5 separate regions of the Homo sapiens genome follow, and all the other regions are linked to region 3. The links come from fine-mapping of genetic effects on gene expression. A gene starts in region 3. Each other region holds a variant in brackets. All regions are shown on one strand. Distances are from middle to middle. Region 1 overlaps KIAA1958. Region 2 overlaps PTGR1 (prostaglandin reductase 1). Region 3 holds the start of HSDL2 (hydroxysteroid dehydrogenase like 2). Region 4 overlaps KIAA1958. Region 5 overlaps PTBP3 (polypyrimidine tract binding protein 3).

Evidence for each region.
Region 1: its variant is fine-mapped to the expression of HSDL2 in monocytes (Fairfax 2014, PIP 0.95).
Region 2: its variant is fine-mapped to the expression of HSDL2 in hypothalamus (GTEx, PIP 0.92).
Region 4: its variant is fine-mapped to the expression of HSDL2 in CD8 T cells (CEDAR, PIP 0.92).
Region 5: its variant is fine-mapped to the expression of HSDL2 in whole blood (INTERVAL, PIP above 0.99).

Annotation. Positions count from the first base shown.
Region 1 is chr9:112,542,423-112,547,599 of GRCh38, reverse strand. All of the region lies in intron 1 of KIAA1958, which reads right to left. Among named protein-coding and RNA genes, the nearest start is that of HSDL2-AS1, 57 kb to the right of the region's middle. RefSeq lists enhancers at 1-485, 1,117-1,411. The variant A/C (reference allele first, on the strand shown) is at 2,723.
Region 2 is chr9:111,592,146-111,597,145 of GRCh38, reverse strand. PTGR1 (prostaglandin reductase 1) reads left to right here. Exons shown (of 10, transcript NM_001146108.2): 3 at 2,879-2,924; 4 at 4,164-4,220. Among named protein-coding and RNA genes, the nearest start is that of PTGR1, 5.0 kb to the left of the region's middle. RefSeq lists an enhancer at 3,068-3,237. The variant C/T (reference allele first, on the strand shown) is at 2,602.
Region 3 is chr9:112,377,433-112,382,609 of GRCh38, reverse strand. It overlaps HSDL2 (hydroxysteroid dehydrogenase like 2), which reads right to left and starts at 2,502. Exons shown (of 11, transcript NM_032303.5): 1 at 2,430-2,502. The coding sequence starts at 2,446. It also overlaps a transcript of PTBP3 not described here. RefSeq lists a silencer at 2,299-2,548 and enhancers at 2,769-2,888, 2,320-2,919, 2,919-3,168, 3,269-3,318.
Region 4 is chr9:112,519,905-112,525,081 of GRCh38, reverse strand. The region is part of intron 1 of KIAA1958; the gene reads right to left. Among named protein-coding and RNA genes, the nearest start is that of HSDL2-AS1, 35 kb to the right of the region's middle. The variant G/TAAATAAATAAAG (reference allele first, on the strand shown) is at 3,121.
Region 5 is chr9:112,310,299-112,315,298 of GRCh38, reverse strand. The region is part of intron 1 of PTBP3 (polypyrimidine tract binding protein 3); the gene reads left to right. Among named protein-coding and RNA genes, the nearest start is that of PTBP3, 21 kb to the left of the region's middle. The variant T/A (reference allele first, on the strand shown) is at 2,798.

The sequences.
Region 1 (5,177 bases), 160 kb before region 3:
CTGTTTTGTCAGTCTTAAGGTCTCTATTTTAATGTTAATGCTGGCCAATTGTGTCTGAACTCCAAAGGAAGGAGGGTATAATGAAGCATGTCTGACTCCCCAACCCCGCATCATGGCCCGAACTAGTTTTTCAGGTTAACTTTGGAATGCCCTTGTCCCAGAAAAGGGGTCCGTTCAGTTAGTTGGGGAGACTTAGAATTTTTTTTTTTTTTTTTTTTTTTTGAGACAGAGTCTTGCTCTGTCACCCAGGCTGTGGTGCAGTGGCACAACTGTGGCTCACTGCAACCTCCATCTCTTGGATTCAAGTGATTCTCAGGCCTCAGCCTCCTGAGTAGCTGGGACCACAGGCACGCACCCCACTCCCAGCTAATTTTTTGGTATTTTTAGTAGAGATGGGGTTTCGCCATGTTGGCCAGGCTGGTCACAAACTCCTGGTCGCAGGTGATCTACCCGCCTCGGCCTCCCAAAATGCTGGGATTACAGGAGTGAGCTACCGCGCCAAGCCAGGGAGTGGTGGCATGCGCCTGTGGTCCCAGCTACTTGGGAGGCTGAGGCAGGAGAATCGCTTGAACCCAGGAGGCGTAGGTTGCAGATCACACCACCACACCCCAGCTTGGGCAGCAGACGGGACTGTCTCAAAAAATATATATATATACATATTTCTTATTTCTGGTTTACAACTCTGGTAGGAAAGCTCAGGGTGTCAAGGAGCACAGAGAGGCAGTAGCTAACCTAGTTCCCAACGAGTCAAGGAGTGCTTCCTAGAGAAAAGACGAGTTCATACTTGAAGGATAACCATGATTAAATTACACAGGGCAGAGAGAGTGAGAGTATTCCAGGTAAGAGAGGACATAGAACTCTGAGAAACATAAAATTCAGTACAGCAGAAGCATGTAATATACAACAATCATAATATTTGTTCAATTCAAACTATATTCCTTTCTACAGGGCAAACCTCAAAATTGGAGTTCAGTTTGGGAGGCCACATGGGTTCATGGCTTCACACAGGAAGGAATTCAAGAGCCAGCAGACAGAGTAAAGTGAAAGCAAGTTTATTAAGAAAGCACTGCACTCCAGCCTGGGCAACAGAGTGAGACTCTGTCTCAAAAAAAAAAGGCAAAGGAATAAAAGAGTGGCAGCTGCATAGGAAGAGCAGCTGTGATGGCTGCTAGTTGGCTATTTTTATGGTTTTTCTTAATCATATGCTAAACAAGGGGTGAATTATTCATAAGTTTTCTAGGAAAGGGGCAGGGAATTCTTGGAACTGAGGGTTCCTCCCCCATCAGACCATATATGGTAGCTTCCCTACATTGCCATGATGACTGTAAACTGTCAGAGTGCTAGTGGGGGTTTCCTCTAGTATGCTAATGTATTATAATTAGCATATAATGAGCAGTGAGGACAACCAGAGGTCACTTTCATTGGCATCTTGGTTTTGGCGGGTTTTGGCCAGATTCTTTACCTCATCCTGTTTTCTCAGTGGGGTCTTTATGACCTGTATCATGTGAAACCAGTCCTGCAGAACTCCTATCTCATTTCTAGGTCATCAATATTACACAAATTTGCCAGCCTCAAAATAAGTATAAATTTAGCTAACTCAAGGACACTCTACTACTAGATGCTCTAAAATGCCTTAAGATCAGGAGAGACTCACAAAGCATCTGACAAGTTTATGTATTTCATACATCAATAATATCCAAATCAATAAAGGCCAAGATCCAAGAATGGCAGCCATTATTCTTTGAAATTCACTAAAAAAAAAAAAAAAAAAAAACAAAGAAACCTGTGTATCACTAAAGAAATATTTATCTAAAAATGCTAAGACAAATCTTTCATGAATATGGGACCCAAAAAGAAAATAAAAAACAACAAAAGTGCTAACCAGACCAGAAGTCTGCCTTTCCAATTCATCTCCCAGATGCTCTGTAAGTAGAAAAACTCCCTCCTGGCAAATAGCACGAATCCTAAGTGTTAAAAAGACATGTTTCAAAGGGATGATAGCATTTCCATTTACATGTATTTTTCTGCTGCTAAATAAGTGATAAATGTCAAGTAAAATATGATCATTTCATATGTTCAAAAAAAGTACAAAAATATACATATTTTAATAGAATGGCATATAACAAGAAAAGCCAAACCCTGACTTGACAGTTTCTTCCTTTCCAGTCTTATTCTTTTTCCCATTCTCCCTCAATATGGTTTAAATTCTGACTTCATTACAAGTACCTAAGTTCATACATAAGCAAAGCAATTTACCATGCAGTCAAAAGGTGAATATAGGTACTGATGGGGAACTTAACAGTAAAAGACATCAATGACCCACAGTATTATACTCCAAGATCTTAAAGATCATCAGGTAACAACCGTTTCTGTGACCACGTACACATTTTATTTTCTGCAAAACAAGCAGATTTGGGATCATTAATGGAGGTCAACGGTAGACCAGAAAAACTAAGGATGAAACTTTAAAAGGTCATGATGATTCTGGAAGTTTCTGTTTGAATTCACAAATGACCAGTATCAATAGTCCTTGAGGTTTTATAAGTACCTTAAGAGTCTGAGCCCTCACATTAATGAACTGAATCCTAAGCAGAGTTTTTGATCGCTGGGGCACTCAGGATTTCAGAAACAATACATTTAAAAATAAGATTAATATGATGGTATAGTGTGGAAAGTTAAAATTAAAAAAAAAAGATTAAAAATTAGATTGTAGCTGGGGAAA[A/C]TTTCTTTTCCTAAGATGAAGTTTCACTGCTTTGAAAAGTAGAAGTGTCTCTTGAAAAAGCCTCCAAGGCAAAAATAATGGCAGCACATCCTCTACATTTCCTTGGTCAGCTGCTTTCCTATATAGCAGTCTCCGGTATACTGAAAGCCAACATGTGGAAATGTATAAGTTGCAGAGCTTAACAAACACACTTAAGAAAAATTAGTCATTTCCACTGACCTTGACTCTCTCCAGGATGGCAGAGTAGATTACAGAGCTCTGACTTTTAATGTGCTTAACAGATTCAGCAACTGGGGGCTGCCCCCTAAATAGTCACATGACTTTGAGCAAGTCCCTTCACCAATCCTGACTTATTTATTTATTTATTTATTCATAACTGAACCATTAACTGAACACCTATTCTCTTCTAAGCACTGTGCTGTGTCAGAAATACAGCATTAAATAAGATAGATGTGGTCCCTATTCCCACTGAATTTAAAGTCTAGCTAGAAATGCCAACAACTAAGCAATTACAAAATAGCATGGCATGAGTTATAGTGCGAAAGCAATTAGAACTCTGAGTTTTTCATGAGTAAAACAAAAGGATTGAATAGTGGTCTCGCAGGGCCCTCTCAGATCTGACATTCATTCAAGTCTAATAGTACAGAAAAATTTTGAAACTTTTCAAATCACTAAACATTTTCCCTCCACTTTACAGTAAAGAAGGCTACAGATAAGAAAAGGGCTAAACAATGAATCTAGTATTCTGTGAAGCTGTGGGGAAAGAGGATTTTAGTGCACAAAGGTTGGATATACAAGAAAAAAGGGCATCTTTACTAAGACAATAGAGACATAGACAAGGCTTACCATCCATATCCTTTAGTTAATGGGCAAAATAGCAATACAAATAAAAGGAAAATAGATAGTTCCATGACAGACATTTCATATATGTATTCATTAAAAACAAACTTTAGGCATCTTCTACACACAATAAATTGTGCTAGATGCAATAGCACAGCAAATATAAATTGGACATGGGTATTGACTTTAAGAAGCTCAGAACTGTGGGAGGCCGAGGCGGGTGGATCATCTGAGGTCGGAAGTTCGAGACCAGCCTGACCAACACGGAGAAACCCTATCTCTACTAAAAATACAAAATTAGACAGGCATGGTGGCGCATGCCTGTAATCCCAGCTACTCAGGAAGGCTGAGGCAGGAGAATCACTTGAACCTGGGAGGTGGAGGTTGAGGTGAGCCGAGATCATGCCACTGCACTCTAGCCTGGGCAACAAGAGCAAAACTGGGTCTCAAAAAAAAAAAAAAAAAAAAAAGAAGCTCAGAAGCTCAATGGTAAAGTGGTAAAGTTAATGATAAAATTAAGCATTTTACAAATTCCTTTGTACAAACCTCAGAAAACTAATATCCCACACAAAACACCATATAACCAAGGTGTCAGCAAGATCTGGCCCACTCAGCATCCATTTACTAATGGTTATTAGTGGTTAATATTTTGCTCAGAGATACATGTGAAGTTGATGGTTACTTCTGAGTGCCCATAAAATGTTAAGTCCAAATATTTTACTAATATTTGAACTTCTGGTTTTTCCAAAAAATGTGCACCCACAATGTGTTTTACTGCTGCTTTAAAACAAACAAACAAACAAACAAACAACAACAACAAAAACAAATAGGCTAAGAAATTTGGGTTGTTACTGGCAGTAAGCCTCTGGGTGAGCACTATTCAAGCTGCTCAGAGCTTTGATCTGCTCAAGATAGATCCAGGTCATGAAGAATGCTTGATTTATGAGATCTGTGAGTAGCAAACTGTCTAAAGCCTCAGAATTTCTTTTCTGAAATACCAAAACAAAATGAAGTGAGGAACTCCCGAAGCAAGCCATGTAATTTTCCAGTTTCTATTATGAGTAAACTTAAACTTGTATCATTTTGCACATGGTAACTACACTAAACTCTTCAGCCCCAAAATACTGCCTGCCATACCAGTCTCACCAGCCTGAGCACCTGTGGTCCTTAAATCTCATGCAGTGGCTTGCAGGCCTTCCTTCTAACAAGAACCTTTATTTCTTTAGTGTTATTAATCAGTCTGTTCTGAACACTCAGCCCAGCTGTTTTCAATATCCCCCTCTTTTTGTCTTGGTTTTCCCAGGGCAGATGCAGTAATAAATAATGGTTCATCTCATGCAGAGAGAGAGGGCTCTAAATTAATTTGCCAAGAACTATTCACTAGGAGCCAATTCATAAATAGATCAATTCACTGAAGATACCAAATTTATACTTTTTCACTTTTCGAAGATTTCAGTGAAATTTTAGTAGAATGATTTACACTCTGCTTCATAGCAGGATTTTAAAAACTAATTTGTAAAATGCAAAGAGTTGTAGAGTAGTTTAGTCTTCATATGAATATATTCTTTGTGAAAATATTCAATAAATGTGAATATTTTCTTTATAATGATTATAT
Region 2 (5,000 bases), 790 kb after region 3:
TCATCTGGGGTAAATGGTTAATTTAGGATGGGCCTTGCTCACATGTCTGCTGATTAGCAGGCTTTCTGTTGGGGTGCATGCCTTAGTTCTCATCTATGTGGCCTTTCTAGCAGGCTAGCTTGAGCTCTATTCTTATAGTGGCCCCATAGATCTAGAGCAGCAGTAGTTGGCAAGCTCCAATGTGCAAGCACTTTCTCTTTTTTTTTTTTTTTTTTTTTTGAGACAGAGTCTTGCTCTGTTGCCCAGGTTGGAGTGCAGTGGCATGATTTTGGCTCACTGCAACCTCTGCCTTCTGGGTCCAAGCGATTCTCTTGCCTCAGCCTCCTGAGTAGCTGGGATTACAGGTGTGCGCCACCATGCCCCCCTAATTTTTGTATTTTTTCTGAGATGGAGTCTTGCTCTGTCACCCAGGCTGGATTGCAGTGGAGCAATCTCGGCTCACTGCAACCTTTGCCTCCCAGGTTCAAGCAATTCTCCCTGCCTCAGCCACCTGAGTAGCTGGGATTACAGGCGCCCACCAACACGCCCGGCTAATTTTTTTTTTTTTTTGTATTTTTAGTAGAGATGGAGTTTCACTGTGTTGGCCAGGCTGGTCTCGAACTCCTGACTTCAGGTGATCCACCTGCCTCGGCCTCCCAAAGTGCTGGGATTACAGGCGTGAGCCACAGTGCCCGGCCTTAATGTTTGCATTTTTAGTAGAGACGGGGTTTCCCATCTTTGCCAGGCTGGTCTTGAACTCCTGACCTTAGATGATCAGCCCGCCTTGACCTCCCAAAGTGCTGGGATTAAAGGTGTGAGCCACCATGCCCCGCTGTGCAAGCCCTTTTCAAGCCTCTACTTGTGCCACGTTTGCTAATATCCCATGGTCAAAGCAAATCACAAAACCAAGCTCAGATTCGAGAGGCAGAAAATAGATTTCTTGATGGGAGAAGTGGCAAGGAGACAAGCACACAAGGGTGGGAGTTATTTGTGGCCATTTTGCAATCTGCCACAAAGACCTTTCCAGGGTTCTCAGTGTGAATCCTCGATGTCACATGGCAGGATTCCCCTGCTTTCATTGATAACTGAAATTCATGCTTGAGTGCATTACTCTTCATGGCTTTGACCAGACTATGGGGAGGATGTCCTCTCTATCCTCATAAGCCTGATGATGGCAGTGAGGTAAGCACTGCCCAGTAGCTATACGAAGAGTTCAGACTATAAGATGAGTCTCGGCTGGGTGTGGCGGCTCACACCTGTAATCCCAGAACTTTGGGAGGCTGAGGCAGGCAGATCACAAGGTCAGGAGATCGAGACCATCCTGGCTAACACAGTGAAACCCCATCTCTACTAAAAATACAAAAAATTAGCTGGGTGTGGTGGTGAGCACCTGTACTCCCAGCTATTTGGGAGGCTGAGGCAGGAGAATAGCATGAACCCGGGAGGTGGAGATTGCAGTGAGCCAAGATCGCGCCACTGCACTCCAGCCTGGGCGACAGAGCAAGACTCCATCTCAAAAAAAATAAATAAATAAAGATGAGTCTCTAAGGAGTGTTTACAGGTAGGTAAGCATTTGAGAAAAGGGGACGCAATCAAGTAGCATGACAAAGTGATCAGTCCCATCTAAGCTATGATGGCCATGACTCAAATTCAAAATTCCAAAGAATGAATACATGAGAGTCACTCCAGCAAAATGCATGTTCTCTCACACCAACTGGGGCTGGCGATGAAGCCATATGGTGAGCACTGTAACATAATGGTTTAAATGTGGCCTTGGGCAAGTAACTAAGCCTAACCTAAAATGGAAGCAATATTTGTTGAATATCAAATGACATAATTCGTGTAAAGCATGGAATGAGTGCTGAGTAAATAGCATTACCATTATTATTATTATTATTAACTGGGCTGGGCCAAAAATGAGAACCCCTTCTTGTCTCTGCGATAGAAGCACAGATGGGAAGACATTCCTGAAGCAGAAGTATTATCTGTGGTTTTTTAGAATACCAAAAACAGGCTGGGCATGGTGGCTCATGCCTGTAATCCCAGCACTTTGGGAGGCCAAGGTGGGCAGATCTCTTGAGGTTAGAAGTTCGAGACCAGCCTGGCCAACATGGTGAAACCCCGTCCCTACTAAAAATACAAAAATTAGCTGGGTGCAGTGGTGGGCGCCTGTAATCCCAGCTACTCAGGAGGCTGAGGCATGAGAATCACTTGAACCTGGGAGATGGAGGTTGCAGTGTTCAGAGATCAAGCCACTGCACTCCAGCCTGGGCAACAGAACAAGACTAGGTCTCAAAAAAAAAAAAAAAAAAAAAGAGGCCGGTCGCAGTGGCTCACGCTTGTAATCCCAGCACTTTAGGATGCCGAGACGATGGATCACTAGGTCAGGAGATTGAGACCATCCTGGCTAACACGGTGAAACCCGTCTCTACTAAAAATACAAAAAATTAGCTGGGCGTTGTGAGGCAGGCGGCTGTAGTCCCAGCTACTCAGGAGGCTGAGGCAGGAGAATGGCATGAACCCAGGAGGCGGAGCTTCCAGTGAGCCAAGATCACGCCACTGCACTCCAGCCTGGGTGACAGAGCGAGACTCCCTCTCAAAAAAAAAAAAAAAAAAAGAATG[C/T]CAAAAACGAAGGCATCAGGCCTTGAGTTCCGTTTTTTTCTTCAACATTTATGTTAGTTTTAGGGGTACATATGCAGGCTTGTTATATGGGTAAATTGCATGTGGCTGAGGTTTGGTGTACGAATGATCCTGTCACCCAGGCAGTGAGCATGGTACCTCATGGGTGGTTTCTCAACCCTTGTCCCTGTCTCACCCCTCCTGTCTAGTGGTGCTCAGTGTCTATTGTTCCTCTCAGGCCTTGAGTTTCTAATTGCCTATGGAATGCTTTATTTTGTAGAGGTCCTGCTTGAAGCTTTGTTCCTCACCGTGGATCCCTACATGAGGTATTATTTATTTCGCCCCTCAAAATGCTAATGCTGTGTTAAATGCTATCTGGAAGTAGTTCATCTTCTAAAATATCCAACTGACTTAAAACATTGTCACTTTCCTTCTGTTTCTCCCAGCCAGTATCAGTGATAAGATTCATGCACGCTCGTCTTTTGCAGGCAAAGGTCTAAGTAGCTTAGTGAGGGATCACCTCAGTCCCTTTGTCCCAACCATCTCCTATCTGCTCTGCACAATTTGCCTTTCACTGCTCAACAGAATTACTTCCAGAAAAAAAAAAAAAAAGAAGGAAAAAAAAAACCTTAAAAGAAAAAAATAAAGCCTGGGCAACATGGCAAAGCCCTGTCTCTACTAAAAATACAAAAAAAGTAGCCAGGCCTGGTGGCGCAGGCCTGTGGTCCCAGCTGCTCAGAAGGGTGAGGCAGAAAGATCACTTGAGCCTGGGAGGCAGAGGTTGCAGGGAGGCAGAGGTTGCAGCGAGCCAAGATCTTGCCACCGCACTCCAGCCTAGGTAACAGAGCAAGACCCCGTCTCATAAAGAAAAAAGAAGCCAAACCCCAATTTGTGCATTTCACTACTGGCAAGTAATTTGGATAGAGGAAGATGCTAAGACTAAAATCAGTTTTTCTGGCCTTCCATTTACCTGTATTCTTTTAATGTAGGTGAATCTGTGGTTGACTCAAACTTATATACTCAGCAGACAACTCAGGGAGGGGAGGAAATCAAAAGCCTTTATTGACTACTAAGTCCTCAGTATTTTTTTGCCTCGGTAAATAACATAGCCATCATTCTTTTACATTTTTTTCATAGCTGATTGATAAAGATTCAAATCTTAAGTGGAAAATACAGTTTAAAAATGTTAATTGGCATCTTTTTGCGTAGCTAGTGTTTTGGGTAATAACTACCCAGTGGTGCCTGGGTTCTATTTTTAAAGTCATTGGTAGAAATTCATCTTTACTTGAACATGGCAGTAAGACTTTTGTGTTCACTCATAAAAAAATCCAATCAGAGTGCTTATCTGAGGTCACAGAGCAGAACTTCCTCTAACAGCTTTCCTCCTGTATCTCACCTAGTTGTAGCCCTTCATCTGTCTGGGTTTTATTGCCGCATACACTTATCCAGCAGTTTTTCATTTGGCTTGAAACTCAAAACAGTCCCCCGATGCTCCTATGTATTAAGAATGGAATTTTATTTATTTACCTATTTTTTTTTTTTTTTTTTTTTTTTTTTTTTTGCAGAGTGGCAGCCAAAAGATTGAAGGAAGGTGATACAATGATGGGGCAGCAAGTGGCCAAGTAATTATTTCCATTTGTCCCAGTGCTTGGAAAATATGTCTCCTCTTTACCTCCTGCTGGGTCCTGTCTCTGTCCATTGCTCCTACAATTTCTTCAGCCTATGTTGTTGACTCACTGTGTGATCTTGGAATCAACTTGGGAAATTCTGTCTCCTTCCTAACTAGCTGGAAAGGAGGGAAGGATGTGAAATTGTCATTTTTTCAGCTTCACTTTGCCATCCTTACTTTTAATTACTAAAAAAAAAAAAGTATTTGTCCAGGTCATGATTTATTGCGGGATCTGGCCAGCAGCCCACAATGCAACAGGGTTCTCTCTTTGTTCCCAGGTGGATCGGCAGGTTGAGAAATAATAGACACACACAAGATAGTGAAAGCTGGGTCCAGGGGCGTCACCGCCTTCTGGTTCCGTGGTGCCACCAAAGCACTGAATATACCCGCATTTATTATTAAGTTTAGTGAGGGCGGGGGTAGGTTAGTGAGGGATTTAGGGTCATTTGATTATGAGGTGAGATGGTCACATGGGGATGAAGTAATTCTTTAACATACATCTGTATGCAGAAGTACAGTATACAGAGATAAGAATTTACAATATAGTGTGTGCATCAGTAATTTCTAACAGAGCCTTAAAACAGAAACACAGTCTTTCCATAACCTATGATTAGCAAGATATTAATCAGCAGTAACAGTTGCAGCAAAAGCTGGTTACAAACAATCCATAGAAACAGGAGGTGAAGCTAGACAATCAGTTAGACCAGAAATTCTCAGAAGGGAGTATGCCTTA
Region 3 (5,177 bases):
AGCATCCCTGTACTCTACTCACGAGATGCCATTAGCATCTCCATTCAATTGTGACTATCAAAAATGTCTTGAGATATTACCAAATGTCCTCTGGGGATCAAATTGTCCCTGGTTTAAATACACAAAGAGATCCAAATCCACACTTGTGATAAAATAAATGCAAATTTTAACAATAATGAGGTGACACTTTTTTCTCTAATTAGATTTTCATCATTAACTATTTTGCGGTTAGCCAACAAGTGGGATTAGAGGATCTCATTTATCCTTTTGGGTGTGCAACCCTTCTGGGGGGTCATCTGGAAATATCTGTCAAAATATAAAGTGCATTTCCTCTTTTTTCTTTTTGAGACAGACTCTCACTCTCTCTCGCAGGGTGGAGGGCAGGGCAGTGGCATGATCTCGGCTCACTGCCACCTCCGCCTCCAGGTTCAAGCGGTTCTCCTGCCTCAGCCTCCTGAGTAGCTGGGATTACAGGTGCCCGCTACCAGGTCCAGCTAATTTTTGTATTTGTAATTTTTGTAATTTTGTAGTTTTAGTGGAGACGGAGTTTCACCACGTTGGCCAGGCTGGTCTCGAACTCTTGACCTCCAGTGATCCGCCCGCCTCGGCCTCCCAAAGTGCTGGGACTACAGGCGTGAGCCACTGTGCCCAGCCACATTTACTCTTTGATCCAGCAATTTCACTTCCAGGAGTTTATCCTACATATACACTTATATATGTGCAAATAGATAAATACAAGTATAATTATGGAAGCAAAAAAAGAGTATCCAAAAAACTGGAAACAGTCTAGTATCCAACAATAGGGAACAGGTTAAATAAACAAAGGTATATTCATATACAGGTTGAGCAAACCAAATCTGAAAATCTGAAATCCGAACACGTCTGGAACCAAGCATTTTGGATAATGGATACTCAAGCTGTTACAGAATATTATGCAACCATTAAAAAGGAGGAGGGGCCAGGCGCAGTGGCTTACGCCTGTAATCCCAGCACTTTGGGAGGCCGAGGCAGACGGATCACGAGGTCATGAGATTGAGACCATCCTGGCTAACATGGTGAAACCCCGTCTGTACTAAAAATACAAAAAAATCAACAGGGCGTGGTGGCACGCGCCTGAAGTCCCAGCTACTCGGGAGGCTGAGGCAGGAGAATTGCGGGAGGCGGAGGCTGCAGTGAGCCGAGATCATGCCACTGCACTCCAGACTGGAAGACAGAGCGAGACTCCATCTCAAAAGAAAAAAAAAGGAGGCGGAAGATCTGCCATGTACTAAAAATGTATGTCCCTGGGCACAGCGGTGCATGCCTGTAATCCTAAATACTCCAGAGGCTAAGAAGGGAGGAACATCAGCCTGGGAGTTCAAGGCTACAGGCCAGTCTGGGCAACATGGGAGACCCCGTCTTTAAAAAAAACAAAGAAAGAATGTCCCAAGACATACCAACTAAAAGTAGCAAGACCAAGAATAGAGTCTGCTGCTATTTTTAAGAAAGGGTATGTGTGTGTGTGTGTGTGTGTGTGTGTGTATCCGGATGTATACAAATTATGTTCATACATGCACGAAATAGAAACGTAAGTAACTGGGGAACTAGATTTTAGGGATGGGGAGACTCACTTTTTACCCTATACTCTTTGAACTGTTTTAAGTCTTTGGCTATATGCCTGCATGTTTCAGGCAAATTACAAAATCTGACAACACGTCACTCAACTCAAGATACCCAGACCTTACATAAACCAGAAAGTAGAATGGTGGTTGCCAATGTACGAGCGGAGGTGGGGAAGAGGAGTTGTTTCATGGATAGAGTTTCAGCTTGCAGATGAAAAAAGTTCTGGAGATTGACTGCACAACGATATGAATCTACTTAACACTACTGAAGTGTACACTTAAAAAACGGTTAAGATGGCAGATTTTGTACGTATTTTAACACAATTTTTTAAGGTGAAAAAAAAATCCCCCAAAGATACCCATGTTTTAAGATCGGTTTAGTTTCTAATTTGGAAATCATTTTTTAAACACTCCATTATTACTCTAGAATTGAGCGTCAGGAACAAGTGAAAACTCTTTAAACTCTGGAGCTGCTCCTGCGACCTTTCACCTAGAACTCACACGCATTCGGCCAGGCACGCACTCCTGCTAAACTCAGGGAGGGCCGGCACTGGGGGCGGCGTGGTGACTCCCCCTCGGCCCTTTACCCGTGGAAAAGGTTTCTACACTGCTGCCATCCTGTAATACAAAAGTTTGTGTTCCTTTTCACACGTTACCGCAGATTCTCGGTGCACAGTGCCCAGCGCGGACCAGAGCTCAGAGCGTGCCCAGGCAGTATCCTTGACCTCCCACAGCCGGGCCGGCCAGCCCGGGCGATCCGCGGCGGCCCCACCGAGACGCGCCCTTCGCCCGACAGGGTCTCTCCCCGCGCCGCCCCTACCCCCTTACCCGGTGTTGGGTAACATGACTTTCGTAGATCAGAGGAGGTGGCGGCGACAGCGGCGGCGGCGAGCAGAGAGCTAAAGCTGGACCGTCCCTCCGCATTTATCCCCGCCCCTGCCCCGCCCCTGCCCCCCCCGATGCCTGTGCGGGAACTGCGCGCGGAAAAGCCGGGATCGCCGAGTGCGCCTGCGTATGCAGTGGGCCTCCTGCGCCCAGCGTTCCTCTTCGTCGCCTCCCAAGCCTGGTCCCTGATTGCAGGCTCTCCGCGCAGGCGCTTTGAGGCACAGCTCCGCCCCGCCCCCTCACTGGTCGTACGGTGACAATCAGGCTCCTGTCGGCGCCTAGCGTCTGGGCAGCGTCAGCCGCTACGTCCACCTTTTCCCTGTCTCTAGGGGTTTCTCCTCGCGCCGCTGTGTTCCAGCGCCGGCTCCGAGCTGGGAGGGTGACTGAGCCCTGAGCTTGGGCCCTCCGAGAGGTGCGTTAGCTCTGGGTCTTCTTGCCCCTACGCCCGAGCCTGGCGTTCTCTCGGCCCCCTCTTAGGAACGCTAGCCCTGGGCAGAAATTGCCTTTGTGGCTGAAGTCGGCCAGCGTCGCGTTTCCACTCTCCCGCCGAATCTGGACCCAAGCCAGCCTTCCCTTGTGCATCGGTAGATAGCTTGTGTTAAGGCGCCAGCTTCTTGGAACAGAGCTCTCTGCAAAAGTCGCGCTGAAGAATTCATAGTCAAAAGCTGAACTTGCAGAAGTTTCTACTTCTGGAATGAGTGTTGAAATGAGATCAATTCTGACATTCAGTTTCGCTTTTGGGATTATGCCTTGGACTAACTCAGCTACTCTGATGAGCTAAAGACTGTAGTATATTTGAAGGAAGACACGAGGAACTGTTTTGTATTTTGTAGGGATAGAACAGGACCTTGAGGAGATTATTATATGAAGACTAGTTAAAGAAACTAGCCTGGAGATGGCTTATGTACTCTCTCCTTTGTTTTTGTTTTGTTTTTTGAGACGGAGTCTCGCTGTCGCCCACGCTGAAGTGCAGTGGCGCGGATCTCGGCTCATTGTAACCTCCGCCTCCCGGGTTCAAGTGATTCTCCTCCCTCAGCCTCCGGAGTAGCTGGGACTACAGGCATGCATCACCACGCCTGGCTAATTTTTTTGTGTTTTTAGTAGAGACGGGGTTTCGCCATGTTGGGCTGGCTGGTCTCGAGCTCCTGACCTCAAATGATTGGCCCGCCTCGGCCTTCCAAAGTGCTGGGATTACAGGCGTGAGCCTCCGCGCCCGGCCTCTCTCCCCTTTGTTATGGGCCCTAAATGACTCTATTTCCTCCTGCATATCACCTGCCCGACTCCTGTAGGCATTTGAATTGATGATTCATGATACGGTCTTTAGAGGCTCCAGAGGAATTTGCAAATTATTATCATCCACTAAGTGATTGCTGATTACCTGAGATACAGCAGCTCAAAAAGGACAAGGTCTCTGCCTATGGGAGGTATGAGTAGCCAGTGTGTTCTTTAGACTGTTGTTAAGCATTAGGTGTTTTAAGAAGAGTGTTGATAGAGACTGTTAGATGAAAATAACTTACTCTCCTCTCATCCTTAGGAGCACTTGCTGAAGCGTGTATATATCTGTCGAATAGAGTGAATTCTTAGTAACGGGGTGACATTTCCTTCATATCATCTAAAATGTTCTCTCCTTTTTGAAAGCCACAATATCTTCAGTCTGTTAGAGCCTCCTTTCTTGAATTTGTGTGCTTCTATTTCCATTTGTTACGGAAAGAGAGCTCAACGAAGAGGCAAAGCAAACAAAAAACCTTTGCCAATTTTTCAGTCATAACGATATTTTGTGAGCCTAAATACCTGTACTTACACTATTTTTATACTTTGCGATGGCTTTCACAGAAGGCAAATATATTCCTAAATTATTAGAGGTAGTTTTACCAAGCAAGTTTAAATCCATTGTATTCAGTACTTTGACTAGAGTTCATTTAAAGTGTGATTTGGAGTTACCCATGACCTTCTACCCCATTACCTTGATTAACCTAGTGTTAGATTAATGCTAGAGGTGAGGAATGGGTGAAGGAGAGGACTTGTGAACATAATTAGATCTTCATTTTGGAAGGTGAATAATTTTGGCTTAGAACACTTCTGACTGCAGCATGAAGAATAGTTTGTGAGTAGATAAAGGCACAGAAGCCATTTAAAAGCCCATAGTAATGTAATGTGTAAGAAAAGTAGTAACCTGAACTAAGGCAGTAATAGTAGAAATGAAAAGACATACTCAAGATATGGAACCTGGCAGATGTAACTAATGATTAGATGTAGGAGCAAAGGGGGAAGATGGTATCAGTGGTGACCTTCAGATTTCTGGTGTAAAGTCCTGGGAGGATGGTGATAACACAGTAAAGAAGTGAAAACAAATGGTTTGAAAAATAGATGTCTTGAAAGTCAGGTAAGTCTCACTCATTTCACCCCTTCTCAGCTTGATAAAACTACCTAAAAATGCAACAGTTTCCTGACAGACTACTGGTTACAACACATTCTCCCAACCAATTTATATCCCTTAAGTTTTGGTTATATGCAACATTAATGTAATTTGGCTAATTTAAACCAAATTAAAGGGGTTGGAGAATTTAGAAGAATTCTGGGATAGTTTATATAACTTAAGGAAGAGCTGAACAACTAAGCTTGACAATGGGAACTAAGGTGCTTCCATGATCCTCAGCAGCATGATCTTTCTAGAATGCATTGTAGGTGGCT
Region 4 (5,177 bases), 140 kb before region 3:
AATCAACTGGTTTAGATACAAATGAAAATCTTATCATAAAGACAATGTTCTATATAAAATGATATTAGGTTCTCAGGCCACTCAAAAGAATCTCACTGAGCCTATTCTGCTGAGCAGAAGTATAGAATATTCCCAGATAACACAGCCAACCAGAATTATATTATCATTTCTGTGAGAAAATGCAACCCTAGTTTACCATAGTGATAAGCCTTGACTCCTTTGGAAGCATCAGGGCGCTGTGAACCAGCAACCCCAGGATTCCAGGGCTGCACTAGGGTCATTAAAGACTTGCTAATCCTCTTCTACAGTGGCTAAATTTAAAATAATTAAAATTAAATATAATTAAAAATTCAGTTCCTTACGAAGCCACATTCCAACTGCTTAAGAGCCAGATGGCTAGTGGCTATTACACTGGAAGGTGCAGAAGGAGAACATTCCCATCACTACAGAAAGATCTCTGGATAACACTGCACTAGTCAGGAAAGAAGAATTCTCACTTTTCTAGAGCATCATAAAAGAAAGCAGCCTATGGTAGCACAACAATGTGAATGAACTTAATGCCACTGAATTGCATACTTTAAAATGGTTAGGATAGTAAATTTTATGTTATATGTATTTTACTACAATTTTTTTAAGGCCGCTTTCTCAGTCACAGTCGCTCCATATTTTCCGAGGTATAGCATAAACTGAAACCGGTCACTAAACTAGACCCCCTTCAAGCGCGGAGCACGCCAAAGCCATGAATTTGTAAATGGCTGTTCAATACACAAAAGAGAGTCAATTCCTACAGTCCAGTTCTACAGCCCATGCTTTGGTTTTCTCAGTTTTCACATGTCCTTGGTTGGGCCTTGGATCCATCCACATTTTATTTCAACAGCACCATAACTAGAACCCCTTCTCAAATCTCACGCACACACAAATCTCTTTCAGAACTGTATTGATCCCTCAGAACTCTTAACGTCTGTGCCACTGGTGGCATTTTGTTGGCTTCTGGGTATGTGGAGATATAGATGGGAAATGGTTAACGTTTAAAAAAATAGTTGAAATCAAAAGGAAATAGGATGGGATGAGGGGTGCATGCACACATACACACCATTCTTTAGAAACTCGACTAGAAGGGGTATATTAGTTGGCTAGAAGAGCCACTAAAGCCTTTTGTATATGTGGAGGTGGAGAGAGTAAGCAGGGAGAGTCAGGGGAATGGGAAACTATGGCCCCAAAGTAAGAATAACTCAAAATCTCCACAATGCAGTCTGCAATTGTGCTTCATCACCTACAAACCTAAGTGTTCCCTCAGTTATCAACTCATACTTGAGTCCTGTCTTAAACCATTTCTGGGGTTTGCATATTATGTATATTCTCTACTTGGGGCATATTTGATACATGTGGTAACTTCTGAGAACATAACTCCCCATCGAAACAGTGTCTATCCACCCATGAAGTCAAAGAGTAAAAGCAAGAGATCTGAGTCCAATTCAGGATTATTCTTCCCAGGACTTTCAAAAGCATAAAACAAGGTGAGGAAATTCTAGGCCAGAGACCAGATCTGATAAATGGTTTAAATTTCATTTAATCCAGGACAAATCTAAAACCACATATCTACCGGTTGGTGCTTTATTTATTTATTTATTTATTTAATAAGACACTTTGTCACTCAGGCTGGAGTGCAGTGGCACGATCTCGGTTCACTGCAGCCTTGACCTCCCAGGTTCAAGCAATCCTTTCACCTCAGCCCCACAAGTAGCTGGGACTACAGGTGTACATCACCACGCCCGGCTAATTTTTGTATTTTTTTGTAGAGGAAGGGTTTCACCATGTTGCCCAGGCTGGCTGGTTAGTACTTTAAAATGAACACAACCAATTTCCAGGTAACTGAAAAATCTCAGCATCCTAATGGAACCACCCTCAATCCCTAGCATTTGAATGTAATACCACTTCTCAAATAAGGAATCATAAGTGCAAACAAGAAATCCATTTCTGAGGGGTGGCTGTGAGGATGAGTGCTATGATGGTATCTAGCTGTGCTGTGGGTAGAAATGACATTGCCCAGTTGTCATCGCATAGCCCTGTATCTTGATAATTCAAGCTACCTACACCTGTTAACTTGAGAGTACTCCCACTATCCATTCTAAAAGCAATCTGGGCCATGTGGATTCAAATTTCTACTTCACCTGCTGTAACCCAAGAGGTAGATGTCAGATGTTAGGGTCGACACAATGGGAATGAGCACCTGCTCTGGTATCCTGGGCTGTTCCAAGGACCCACTGGGGACTGAGCTGAGACCTTCTCAACTAGGACTTTAGAACATTCATCTTGCCCAGCTTTAGTCTCAGGGCTGGGTAAAGGGGCTGAGCTTTTTGACTATAACCAAGGATGGAGCCATAAATAAGTAGATATGGTAAGTGAAAGTAAGGTAATTGGTCCCAACTGGGTCAATGAGGGTCAGGACCCAAGGTCAAAGCAAGCAATGAGAATGATCACATATATCAAGCCAATCACATCCTTGGAATGAAACCAAGGAGGAGAGAATCATGGCCCCAACAAAGACCCAGGCTAGGCGTATACACCAGGTAGATCTATACAGCACAGTGACTGGACAGATATAAAATGTGACTCAGGTGAAAGGAAAGCAGGCCCAGAGCTACTTAGAGGTGGAAGAGATATTAAACAGGACAAGGTGAAACCTGGGTGACTATTGCTGGAGTATTAGGCATAAAGCACTAAAAAAGAGTAAGATCCCTTATCTGAAGCATGAAATACTAGAGGATAGCAAAGGTGGTCTACAGTTTCTTAGGAAAAAGTTCTTTAAGTGGCTGGGCACGGTGGCTCACGCCTATAATCCCAGCACTTTGGGAGGCCGAGGCGGGTGAATCACCTGAGGTCGGGAGTTCGAGACCAGCCTGACCAACAAGGAGAAACCTCGTCTCTACTAAAAATAGAAAATTAGCTGGGCATGGTGGCACATGCCTGTAATCCCAGCTACTCGGGAGGCTGAGGCAGGGGAATTGCTTGAACCTGGGAGGCGGAGGTTGCAGTGAGCCAAGATTGCACCACTGCACTCCAGCCTGGGTAACAAGAGCGAAACTCGTCTCAAAATAAATAAATAAATAAATAAATAAA[G/TAAATAAATAAAG]TTATTTAAAACCAGAATTCTATGCCCAGCAATGATTATTCAAGTGTGTGGAGAAAAATAAAGACATTTCATTTAAGGGCATATAAGGGCACACAGTAATCAGTCTAATGCACTTTAACAATGGGGATAACAAGAGAATGTATCCTATTGATTTTTTTAAAAAACTAAATTAGAAGAAAAATTCAAGACAGATATAAAAATCAGAATAACAATTAAACCTGAATATGTATTTTTTCAAATACAGAATATATATTCTTTTCCAGTGCCTGCAGAACATTTCTCAAAAGTTATCATGCAATATGCCACAAAGAAAATCTCAAAATTCCAAAGTGCAAAAATCATATAGGCCATATTTATGACTGAAATGCAATAAAACTAAAAATTAACATGATAATCTAAGAGAAAATCTTTAAAAAATATTATTCTAATTAATATAGACTATTCAGAGGGCCTGGCATGGTAGCTCACGCCTGTAATTCTAGCTCTTTGGGAGGCCAACGTGGGAGGGTCACTTGAATTCAGGAGTTTGAGACCAAACTGGGCAACAGAGTGAGAACCTGTCTCTACAAAAAATTTAAAAAATTAGCCGGGCATAGTGGCACACACCTGTGGTCCCAGCTACTCCTTAAGAGGCTGAAGTGGGAGAATCACTTAAGCCCAAAGAGTTTGCAGTTACAGTGAGCTATGATTGCACCACTGCACTCCAGCCTGGGCAACAGAGCAAGACCTATCTCTTTAAACAACAACAACAACAACAACAACATAGGCTATTTAGAAATACAAGAAACTGACACATTAAAACCTAAGGAAAACAGGCAAAGCAAAGAACCCAGGAAGACGGATTGTCTTACATGCCTTTATTAGAAAATTTTTTTAATTGAAAAATATTGTTTAAATATTAAACCCAACAAGTTTAAAACACGACAAAAGAAACAAGAAGAAAAGGCTTATAATGTAAAGGAGAAATTAAAGAAATAGAAAACAAAACAAAGAAGGAGATGGCACACATTACATCATGAAGAAAAAAAAGATTTAAAGAAATCATTTATTTAGCACCGCCTAACTTCCACGTACTGCATGCCAGGTGCTGGGGATATGTTTCATATGTTGAAAAGGACCAACATATGCTGTCTTGATTCAAACCACAGATGGTCTAAAAAGGATTCCTAGAAGGAAAACTCAGGACATCAGTATTTCTAGCTTCCATTTTTATTCTTTGTATTTTGACTTTGTTCTTATTGGGAACTAAAAATTAACATTTATTTGTATTCAGTATTTTCTTGATGGTCTGGATTTCCTCTTTTAGAATCACTTACAGTGTATAATTACTGTGAAAAATTCATTGATTTCTCAGTTTCAACACCCTGTTCATTTCTCTGTTTCTTCACTTCCTTTTCAATCAGTGCTTCTGCTTCTTCTGCCACTCTCCTATCTATAGTTTAAGTTTGGGGATATTAATTTATACAGAATACCACAGCTCTTACTGTGAAAGTTAACCTAGGACCAATATAGTCACTCACTTGGAGTAATATAGAGTATCATGTAGATGATGGTAAAAGCATCAAGCATATGCTGTTGCTTTATCAGACATGATAAATAATGCAGAACTAATGCAATATATCAATTTCATTTGGCCTCTAGTTATTTGAGACTATACCACATTCATTGTCTTATCTACAACTGAAGGTAGTGCTTCTACTCAAAGCCAGTGCTAAAGACTGAATTAGATTTCGTTAGCAGTAATATGCAGATAGCATGTCCATCTACCTCTATCTTTTCTATTTTCCATCTTAAGTGTTTTGGAAATGCAAAAACAAATTAATTTGCCATCTCCTTACTACTAACCAATTTAATCCATCAAGCCCAGTGTAAAATGACAAAGAACTGCTTTCACTTTGCCATTTTCCCATACACACAAAACTTAAGAACTCCTTGATCTTAATTAAGATGACATATCACCAAGGGGACCGAAGCCCCTCTTTTATTATACTAGTCCACTTCCTGCAATATTGTATAATTAGGAACAAGAGACAAGCTGATGTATTTATATCAGCACT
Region 5 (5,000 bases), 67 kb after region 3:
TAAAGCTTACTACTTTGATCAGATAAGATGTTTTGTATCATTTCGGTCCCTTTATGTATCCAGAAGTTTGTTTTATGTTAAACATGGTTTGTCTTTATGAATGTTCTGTGTACACTTGAATGTGTAGTCTAATTTTGTTGGGTGTAGTGCCTTTTAAATGTCAGTGGGGGCCGGGGGCGGTGGCTCATGCCTGTAATCCCAGCACTTTGGGAGGCCAAGGTGGGCGGATCACGAGGTCAGGAGATCGAGACCATCCTGGCTAACACGGTGACACTCCGTCTCTACTAAAAATACAAAAAATTAGCCGGGCATGGCAGCGTGTGCCTGTAGTCCCAGCTACTTGGGAGGCTGAGGCAGGAGAATGGTGTAAACCCGGGAGGCGGAGCTTGCAGTGAGCCGAGATCGCGCCACTGCACTCCAGCCTGGGTGACAGAGCAAGAGTCCGTCTCAAAAAAAAAAAAAAAAATGTCAGTGGGACAGACTGGTTGAAATTCAGGTTTTCTGTATCTTTACTGATTTTTTATTCTGTTAAAGAGAAGAGAAATATTGAAATTTCTGTCCGCAATTGTAGATTTGTGTATTTCTTTTTGTAGTTCTGTGAGGTGTTTCTTTTTTGTTTTTTTGTTTTGTTTTGTTTTGTTTGAGACAGGGTCTCGCTCTCTAGCCCAGGCTCTCTTCTAGGCTTAAGGGATCCTCCCGCCTCCGCCTCCTGAGTGGCTGGGACTGAAGGTACACACCGCTGTCTCTGGCTAATTTTTAAATTTTTGTAGAGATGAGTCCTTGTTCTGTTGTGCAGGCCGATCTCAAACTTCTGGGCTCAAGCGAACCTCCCACTTTGACCTCTCAAAGTGCTGGGATTAGAGGCACGAGCTACTGCACCCAGCTGTTCTGTCAGTTTTTGCTTTACGTGTTTTGAAGCTCAGTTACTATATGTATTCACATTTAGGAGTGTTATATCTTGATGAGTTGACCTTTTGTCTCCTTGTGAAATATACATTTTTATCTCAGTAATAGTTCCTATCTTGAAGTGTACTTTGTCTAATGTTAATGTAGCCATTCCAGCTTTCTTATGATTGGTATTTGTGTGGTATACATTTGTCCCTCTTGTCCTTGGGAGATTGGTCCAGTACTTCCCAAGGACCCCAAAATTTGTGGATGCAGAGGCTGAAGTCTTTTATATAAAGAGAGCAGTATTTGCATATAACTTATAGCACATCCTGCTGTATACTTTAAATCACCTCTAGATTACTTAGAATGCCTAATACAGTGCTTACACATAACCTCATTTGCGTGGATTCATTTAAGGTAGTATTTGGCACATGGCAAATTCAACTTTTGCTTTTTGTAACTTTGTGGAACTTTTTTTCCCAAATGTTTTCCGTCGTCAGTTGGTTCATCCATGGATGAATTCATCGGTATGGAGAGCTGACTGTATTTTTTTCCTATTCCTTTTCCTTTTCTTTTAATCTATCTATGTTTAAGATAGGTTAAAGAACAGTTGAGCCAAAGACAACAAATGGCGAGATGGTGGACTTAAATCTACTTAAAAGGATTAGCTTCCAAAAGACTTGGGCTTTGCTTTCTTTTTGCTCACTCTGATAAAAGTGAGCTGCCATGTTGTAAGTTATCTTATGGACAGGCCCATGTACAAACTGAGTCCTGCCAGCAACCACTTGAGTAAGTGTGGAAGTGGATCCTTCATGTGTTCTGTTAAGCCTTGAGATGATTCCGGTCTGTGATAGACTCTCCAGAGGACCTAGCTAAGCCATGTCCAGGTTTCTGACTTCCACAAATTAAGTTACAAAATATTTGTTTTTTCCAGCTGCTAAATTTTGGAGTAATTAGTTATCCAGGCATGGATAAACAATACAGCTGCCTGCTCACAATGGTGAATAAATATTGAAGAAATGAATATAAAAATAACTTATTAGGCTGGGTGTAGTGGCACACACCTGTAGTCCCAGTGCTTTGGTAGGTTGAGGTAGGAGGATTATTCGAGCCCATGAGAGGAGGTTACTGTGAGCTGTGATTACATCACTGCAGTCCAGCCCGGGTGACAGAGCGAGACCCTGTCTCTTAAAAGAAAAAAGTCTTATTAATGTCAGAGTAAGATTATGTAAGTGCAAGTACTTTTTTGTTGTAAATTACTATGGGTAAGACTTTCTTATATGATCATGTTATCTTTATCTGATAGCTTACCATAGTGTGTACATACCACATATGTACTTTGATTTTCCTTTTCCTTTTTTTTTTCTTTGAAACAGTGTCTTGCTGTCACCCAGTCTGGAGTGCAGTGGCACAATTTCAGCTCACTGCAGCCTTGACCTCCTGAGCTCAAGCAGTCTTCCCACTTCAGCCTCCTGAATAGCTGGGAATACAGGCATGCACCACCATACCTGGCTAATTTTTGTGTATTTTGTAGAAACAGGGTTTCGCCATGTTGCCTGGGCTGGTCTCCAACTCCTGGACTCAAGTGATGTGCCCACCTTGGCCTCCCAAAGTTCTGGGATTACATGCATGAGCCACTGTGCCCGGCCTGCTTTTTAACAGTTTATTTTTTCTTAGTGTACTAATGTGGTGAATTTCATTGATTTATTATTATTTTTTAAAATTTTATTTTAATATAAAGTTACAGAAAGATTATAAGAAGAGTACAAAGAACTCGTATATCCTTTACCCAGTTCATATTTGCACCATTTTTCATTTATCATTTCCCCGATTGTCTTACCATTTCCCCTTCCATATATAGTCTTTCTATAGATGTAAACGCACACACACACGTCCTTTTTTTTTTTTT[T/A]AAAAAAAAAAAACAAAAAAAAAAACAAGGTCTCGTTCATTCAGTGGTATGAACACAGATCACAGCAGCCTTGATCTCCTGGGCTCAAGTGATCCTCTTGTCTCAGTCCTTGAACAGCTGGGGACCACAGGCATGCACCACCACGCTCAGTGAATTGTTGTTGTTATTGTTATTGTTGTTTTGTAGATACAGGGTCTCACTATGTTGCCCAGCCTGGTCTCGAACTCGTGGCCTTAAGTGATCCTCCTGCCTTAGCTTCCCCACTTTTTTTTATGTCTTAATCACTTGGTTAAGGTGATTTTCTGCCAGGCTTTTCCATTGTAAAGTTACCAATTTTCTTTTCGTAATCAATGATTTGTTGGAAGATGCTTTGAGACTAGAGTTTATTCTTTAACCCCTAAATATTTGAGTGTATTACCTATAAACAAAGAATTTCCCATTCATTACTGTGATACAGTTAACAAAATCAGGAAATTAATCTGAAATAGGTCCTCAGTCTTTTTGTTTCATTACATTGACTCTTTTTTTCTTTTTAAAATAAAGATGTGGGATTTCACTATGTTGCCCAGGCTGAAGTGCAGTGGCTACTCACAGGCACGATCCTAGAGCACTGCAGCCTCCAACGTCCTGGGCTCTGATGATCCTCTTGCTTCAGCCTCCCATGTAGCTGGGACTACAGGCATAAGTCACCACACCCGGCTAATTAAAAAACCGTTTTTTTTCAGAGACAGGGTTTAGCTCTTGTCCAGGCTGGTCTCAGACTCCTGGCCTTAAGCTATCCTGCCTCATCCTCCCAAGTTGCTGGGATTACAGGCCTGATACACTGTGCCTGGCTAGCAAATCTGTTTCAGAGTACAGTTGTCCCTCAGTATCTAGGGGGGGCCAAAATCCATGCATACTCAAGTTCTCCAGTTGGCTCTGTATAGGTGAAGTCTGCCTGCATGTATAAAAAGTCAACCTTCATATAACTGGGTTTTGCATCCTGGGAATACTGTATTTTTGATCCTCATTTGGACTCGGGCAGTTCAAACTCACTCATGTTGTTCAGGGTCAACTGTATTTCCATATAACTTAACTCAGTTCCTTCTGAATACTTTAAGTCATCTCTAGGTTATTTATAATACGATTTAATGCTATGTAAATAGTTGTTATGCTGTATTGCTTAGGGAATAATGACAAAAAAAGTCTGTACATGTTTATACAGATGCAGTTTTTTTCCAAATATTTTCAATCTGTGATTGTTTGAATCTACAGATGCAGAACCCATGGATACGGTGGGCCAATCGTATATTAAAAAAAAAAAAACACATTTTCCACCATAACTGCAACTGCCCTGGCCCTTAATCCGGATTATCATCACAGCTTCCTAACCAGAGTCCTTCCCTCTTTGTCTTGTTAAAGACTGTTCTTAACACAGCAGCCAGAGTGATCCTTTAAAAAAGCAAATTGATCTTTTCACTCCTGTTCAAAACTCTCTTTCCCTCATTTCGCTCAGAGTAAGGTTCTTTAGAATGGCCGTTAAGGCCCTGCATGCTATGACACACCTTCTCTCTAATCTCTTTACTTCTCCCCTTGCTCATTCTCTTTCAGCCATAATTGCCTCCTTACTGTTTTTCCAGAACATGCAAGGCATTTTGTTTCCTCTACCTACAACATTCTTCCCTCAGATATCTACATGCTTACTCCTTACTACTTGTAAGACTTTGGTTAAATGCCTTTTTCTCTTAAGTCGTACCTTGCTGTCCTATTTGAAATTGAAATTCTTTTCACCTCTGGCACTCCTGATGCTTTTTCTCCTACTTTTTAAGAAGCACTTAAGACTTTAGGACATAATACATAATTTACTTACTTTGATTATTATGTTTCTTTGTGCAAGATTGTAAGCTCCATTAAGGTAAGGGCAGGGATTTCGTTTGTTCCCTAATCTTCCCCAGTGGTTAAAGGCCTGGCACATAGCTGGTGGCTCAGTAAATATTTATCGAATTTGTTGAATGAATGAATATTATTGCTAACACATTTATACATACTGAATTCAATATGTATGGGCTATACCTGTATGGTAAGAACTGAATAAATATACAAATGAATGTCTTTTTGATTGGATATCATGAATTAGAAGGCTTTTTAGAGGAATTACTTGCAGGCATTAAAGAAAATATTCAATATGCTGTCTTCAAAAAAAGTGTTGATATTTTGTTGTTAA